Regions from separate parts of the Homo sapiens genome. Here region 2 is linked to region 1. Evidence: fine-mapped expression QTL. A gene starts in region 1. The other region holds a variant in brackets. All regions are shown on one strand. Distances are between the middles of the regions.

Region 1 (2,907 bases):
TCAGAAAGCTCCAACCATAGAACTCCACCGCCACACAAGGTCAGAGATGCCCCTAGCCCTGCCGGTTTCTCCAGCCTCATTTCCTAGCATGCTCCCCAACTACTGTAGCCAAATGGACCTCCTTTCACCCCTCATGTTTATAATGCTACTTCCTACCACAAGGCCTTTACATATGCTGTTCTGCCTGGAATGTTCTTTCCTCCCCTCTTCACCTACTTAACCACTACTTAAGATATTAGTTCATGTGCCATTCAGAAAAATTGTCCTTAGGGTGACTGAGAATAGGCCCTCAATAATCACTTGCTGAAGAAATCTCTACCATCCATTTAACACTCTCAAGAGCATGTTGGGCAATAAAGCCTAAGGCAGGGGTGGGGTGGGACAGTCCTTACCTGGCCCACTCCACTGTTGACTTCGTCTTCTACACGCCGCTGCAGGCTTTCCAGCTGGTTCTTGAGAAATGCCAGGTCCTTAAGCTTAGGCAGAGAATCCTAGGACAAGCGAGAGGCTGGCTCCAGCAGTCTGACTAAGCCCCACCCCTTGCTCAATTCCATCAGAAGCTGGGAATTGGGAGGGGATGGGGTGAGCCAGAAAGACCTTTTCCTATAAAAGCTTCCTGAGATGGCAGTGGCAAAGAAAGACAAGCATTGAAAAGCACAGAATTCAAATGAGGGCCAGGAAGGGACTGACAGATGGGATCTGAACCAGTAACTTACATCAACCTTGACAAGAATTTTATATAGCAAGCAGTATGTAGGAAAGGCAGGAGGGACAGCTAGGGACCTTTAATTAGGTCCATCAGGAAACCACTACTGACTCCATTATGAGCTCCTTGAAAGTCGTGACCAGTCTGTCTTGGCTACTATGTTCTAGTGCCTGACATTTAGTAAATGTGTGGGTAATGCTGAGCTTCTAGACCAATGGTGAGTAATGGACCGAGGCAGTTTCCTGGACAATTTTATTGTCTTGGTTCCTGGATGGGCTTTACCTCTTTCTTCCCAAGGACATCCCAAACTGAATGTGAGTGACTGGATGTGACTGAGAATGACAAAAAAGACTGTCGGCAAGTGTGTAAGTAAATGGACTGAGTGATTTTGATCGCATATAAGTATGAAATTCAGAATGTATGCAAAGGAGTGTTTGAATGAGGGTGGTGTGAGTGTCCGTGTGATTGGAAACATCGTGTCACTGGGAAGAAAATTTCGGGAGCTAGGGAATGGGGTAAAGTGAGGAGTGTTTAAGGGTGAATGTTTTTGAGTCTGTGCTAGTAACGGGTTCGTGATGGTTCCCAGGAGGGGACATCTGGGGGATCCACGGCTCCTCCCGCCTCGCCGAATGCTCTCCCCACACCACTCCACACTGTTGAGGCAGTTGACAGGAGCCGCAGAAGAAACAAGGGACATCCTCACTCCTGAGCCGCTCCAGAGTCGCTTCTCCCCGGAACTAAAAAGGTCAAGGAGAGTGAAGACCACGCCCGGCTGCAGATCACCCCCACGGCCACTCACCTTGTCATCCGCCATCTTCCCCGCCGAACTTGTTGCGCAGGCGCATCCCCGCCTCCCTCGTGCCGACTGCCCCGGCCATCTTTACGGAGGGCGAAGGCACTTCCGGAGCATTTTTGGAAAGGGGGAGGTGCTTTCCTAGTGGCCAAGTACGCCTCTCTCAGATACTTCCACGTGACCCCCTCCCGTCGAGTCTCAGGCTGCGTGTGAGCGCACTCACGACCGGGGCGCGATGATCTCACTCGTGCGCGAGTGCGCGCGGCGCATGTTCGGCGTGTCGGTCTTCAGGCGCCTGATGAGTTCATAGTTGGGCGGTGGTGTCAGCGGTTTCGCTGGCGTTCGTGGGCCTCCCCCGGACCCACACACGGAAACACGCAACCATTCGGGGATCCAGACGCCCGTTTACACGCACCACCCCTGGGCGGGCTGTGCGGCTCAGGCCCTCCCCCGGGACCGGCCCGTGTCCCGCCCCGTGTCCCGCCCCGTATTTGTGCGGCGCCAGCTGGCCCCGCAGCCTGCGGCGCAGAGAGGCTGGGCTTGCAGGCGCAGTAGCTCCAGAGGTCGCGCTGGGCTGAGAGTGCGGGCCGGCAGAGGCTGGCGGGGAGCAGCCGGGGTTATGCTGGGCAAGGATTACATGCTGGCCATCATTCTGGTCAACTGCGATGGTGTGCACGGAGGGGCCCGGTGGGAAGACCAGGAGCTGAGGGAGGACGAGGGAATCCGAAAGGCTACTCTGGGGCTCAAAGACGGTGGGGGATACCTCTCTGTGTAGGGACCAGGGGGCGAATGAACCCGGTCTTTACATGTGATGTCTTCAAGATTGAGGAGCCTGGATCTTCAGCCTAAGAACTGACCCATTTTGGGGATGGAGAGGGGATTATGACAGCATGTTATTCTGAACTCACAAATCATATGCTCCCTCCTCTCTAATCCGGTGTTCCTGTAGATGACTTGTGGGGGGACCACAGTCTGGAGGTGGAGGCTGGCCTGCCTCCTGGCTGGAGGAAGATCCACGATGCTGCAGGTACTTACTACTGGCATGTACCCAGCGGTAGCACCCAGTGGCAGCGCCCAACCTGGGAACTAGGAGATGCAGAGGACCCAGGCACGGTAGGTAGAGTGTGAGGAGGAGGTCTGAGCCCATGTGTGGACCTAGGTCTGCTGTTAAACTGACTAACTCCCACTCTACAGGGAACGGAGGGGATCTGGGGACTGCGGCCCCCCAAAGGGAGATCCTTCTCCAGCCTGGAGAGTTCACTGGACCGGAGGTAACGGGTGGCCCAGGCAAAATGAAAGGCTTGGGGTTCCATGGTGTTCAAAAATGCAGCTGGACCCATGGTCTGCTTTCCAGCCCAGGTTCTGGATTCTGTCACATGTTTTGGGTTCTGTTACGTTCTTGGCTCTG
Region 2 (2,907 bases), 74 kb before region 1:
AAACAACTAGGACTTGATGATGGATCGATATGGGGTTGTGGGTCAAAGAGTTGTGCAGGATGATTCCCCTGTTTCTGGCTTGACCCACTGGATGCGTGGAAGTGTAGAGTGGATTGCGTTCAGGTTTGGGGCAGACCTCGAGTACTCCCGGGAGTCTGGCGCCAGCGGGCGTGGACTCCAGCGCACCCTACCTTGCCCCCTCACCTCGGTTTCCCCGAGGATCGCAGCCACACATCCCTCTCCAGCTTCCTCTGGGGCGTCGTTTCTCAGCAGCCTCTTGCTGACCAGCTGCTGCTCCCTCCGCGCCTTCCGCAGTGCTGGGGGCAGAGGAGCCGGCTGAGCGTGGGAAGGACGACCACAACCCAGAACCCGCGGCTCCGAGCCTGGGGTCTCAACTTATCCCCGACCGCCATATACCCCCGCGCTCCCTCGGCCGCCCACACCTGCCTCCCGCTCCCGCCGGCGGCGCCGTAGCTCCTCCACCCCGCAGACCGTGGGCCTGAGGCGGCCCTGCCGTCGGCTCCACATGGTGGAGCAGGAGGAGGAAAGCCGAAGGAAACAGCAGCCACAACGCTCCCAGGGGCGTAGAAGATGGCACCGACTGCGCAGCCTCAGCACAGGGCGGGAACAGGCGGGGAGGGCGCGAGGAGCGGGGTGGGTGCTGGGTGAGGGCGGGGCTCGGCGAGTGGACGCCTCGCGGGGACGGTGGGCGGGGCGAGGGCTAGAGACGCTGCACCACTAGACCAGAGCCAGAGGCGTCGCTCTGCCTCTGATTGATTTCCTGTCTTACCAATTCTAGGAAAAAAAGTCTCTCATCCCTGACCTCGAGTGACCCAAGCCAGCAGTGTCACAATCTACTCAGCAAACACAACTTCCCCACCCACAATACGCTCTAGATGAAAGTTCAAAACAATCCCGAACTGCGGGAAGCGCCATGATGCCGTTTCACTATTAATGCGGATCCCACTGATGAGAGCTGCCAAAAACGCTTGAAGCGTCATTGAATTGTCAACGAAAAGAGTCCAACTCTGTAAAATATTTGAAGAGACTTATTCTGAGCCAAATATGAGTGACCATGGCCCTTGACACAGCCCTCAGGAGGTCCTGAGAACATGTGCCCAAGGTGGTCCGGTACAGCTTGGTTTTACATATTTTAGGGAGATATGAGACTTCAGTTCATTCAAGAAATACACTGGTTGGGCCGGGCCTGGTGGCTCATGCCTGTAATCCCAGCACTTTGGGAGGCCTGGGCGGGTGGATCAGCTGAGGTCAGGAATTTGAGACCAGCCTGGCCAACATGGTGAAACCCCATCTTTACTAAAAATACAAAAATTAGCCGGGAGTAGTGGTGGGTGCCTGTAATCCCAGCTACTCGGGAGCCTGAGGCAGGAGAATCGTTTGAACC[C/T]GGGAGGCGGAGATTGCAGTGGGCCGAGATCGCGCCCCATTGCCTGGGGTACAAGAGCGAAACTCCGTCTCAAAAAAAAAAAAAAGAAAGAAAGAAAGAAAGAAATCTGGGATATGATGAGGTTTCTCTTCAAATAATTAGATCAATCTTTTATTCTTTAATTCATAGTACTCCCCCCCACACACACTTTTGTTTTCCTTTTTCTCCTTTTTGCCTTCGTTAGATGCCGAGGCACGCCACAGTACAAGACGTTATCAGTACCAGACGTTATCAGTACCAGCTCACATTCCTTTCATTATTTGGAAAGAGGACTAACTTTCTAGTTCATTACAGGCACCCCTTCCCCTTTCCTCTCCACTTTCTTTTACGTGCCCACATTACCTAAAAAAATCAAATGTTTAGCCAACCGGGATTAGTTCAGATTGTATGACCCGACCCCGGCCAATGGGGAAAGGGTACAGGGGCAGGACTTGCGTCAGGAATAAAGGCTCTCGTGCCCCTTTGTTCAGGTGTGCTCTCATGGCGACTGGCCAAGCAGACACCCCTCTGAGCAGAAGTAAAATTGCTTTGCTAATAATCCTTTGTTCGAGTGTTCAATTTCCCTTAGGATTTTGAGCGTTATTCCTAAGAGAAAGAAAAGAAAGAAAGGAAGGAAGAAAGAAAGAAAGAAAGAAAGGGAGAAAAGAAAGAAAGAAAAGAAAAGAGGAAAGGAGGAAGGGAAGAGAGGGGAGGGGGAAAGAGAGAAAGACATTGGTTTGTGGGACAACAGAAAGGCGGGACAACTCGAAGTGGGGCGGTGGGGGGCTTCCAGCTTATAGGTAGATTTTAAATTTTTCTGGTTGACAATTGGTTGAGTTTCTCTAAAGACCTGAAATCAATAGAAAGGAATGTCTGGGTTAAGATAAAGGATTGTGGAGACCCAAGTTCTTATTTGCAGAGGAAACCTTCAAATCCTAGGCTTCAGAGAGAATGGGTTGTAAAATGTTTCTTATCAAACTTAAAGTCTGTGTTGATGTTAACGGTAGAGAGGTATAATGAGGCACGTTCAACCCCTACTTCCCATCATGGCCTGAAACGGTCACTCGGGTTTAATTTTGAAAGAGCCCTGGCTGAGGAGGAAGTCCATTCAGATGGTTGTGGGGGGCGGCCTTAGAATTTTATTTTTGCTTTACAGAATGTTCACCACAATGACCATTATTCTCATTTTATATGTGATGAAAATGAGAAAGATATCATTATTTCACTTCTCTGCATAAAACTGAATTCCCATAATTTTTAGGATAAAATCTTTCACCAAATGTGGAGTGCCACTAGTCTACTAGGCACTGAGGAAACACTAGTGAATAAAAAACCGTGTTCCTCACATTCAAAATTGGAATTGTGGCCGACTTAGCCCTACATGGTCTAACCCCTGCATACCTCTCCAATCTGGACTCACCTCTTCTGGGACCTTCTCTTTGTCAACAAGCCCTGTTCTTTTTCTCCTCCACCCTACTCCCACT

The links.
Region 2: its variant is fine-mapped to the expression of APBB3 in whole blood (TOPMed, PIP above 0.99).

The regions. Positions count from the first base shown.
Region 1 is chr5:140,563,457-140,566,363 of GRCh38, reverse strand. APBB3 (amyloid beta precursor protein binding family B member 3) reads left to right here and starts at 1,766. Exons shown (of 13, transcript NM_133173.3): 1 at 1,766-2,167; 2 at 2,449-2,612; 3 at 2,694-2,770. The coding sequence starts at 2,119. SLC35A4 (solute carrier family 35 member A4) reads right to left here and starts at 1,536. Exons shown (of 3, transcript NM_080670.4): 1 at 1,506-1,536; 2 at 393-491. LOC131768270 (SLC35A4 upstream open reading frame protein) reads right to left here and starts at 1,536. Exons shown (of 3, transcript NM_001394034.2): 1 at 1,506-1,536; 2 at 393-491. The coding sequence starts at 1,520. It overlaps MIR6831 (microRNA 6831), which reads left to right and starts at 2,613; the gene lies at 2,613-2,693. RefSeq lists enhancers at 1,459-1,578, 1,334-1,940, 2,549-2,608 and a silencer at 1,899-2,078.
Region 2 is chr5:140,637,149-140,640,055 of GRCh38, reverse strand. TMCO6 (transmembrane and coiled-coil domains 6) reads right to left here and starts at 605. Exons shown (of 12, transcript NM_018502.5): 1 at 444-605; 2 at 205-317. The coding sequence starts at 528. RefSeq lists a silencer at 544-793. The variant C/T (reference allele first, on the strand shown) is at 1,406.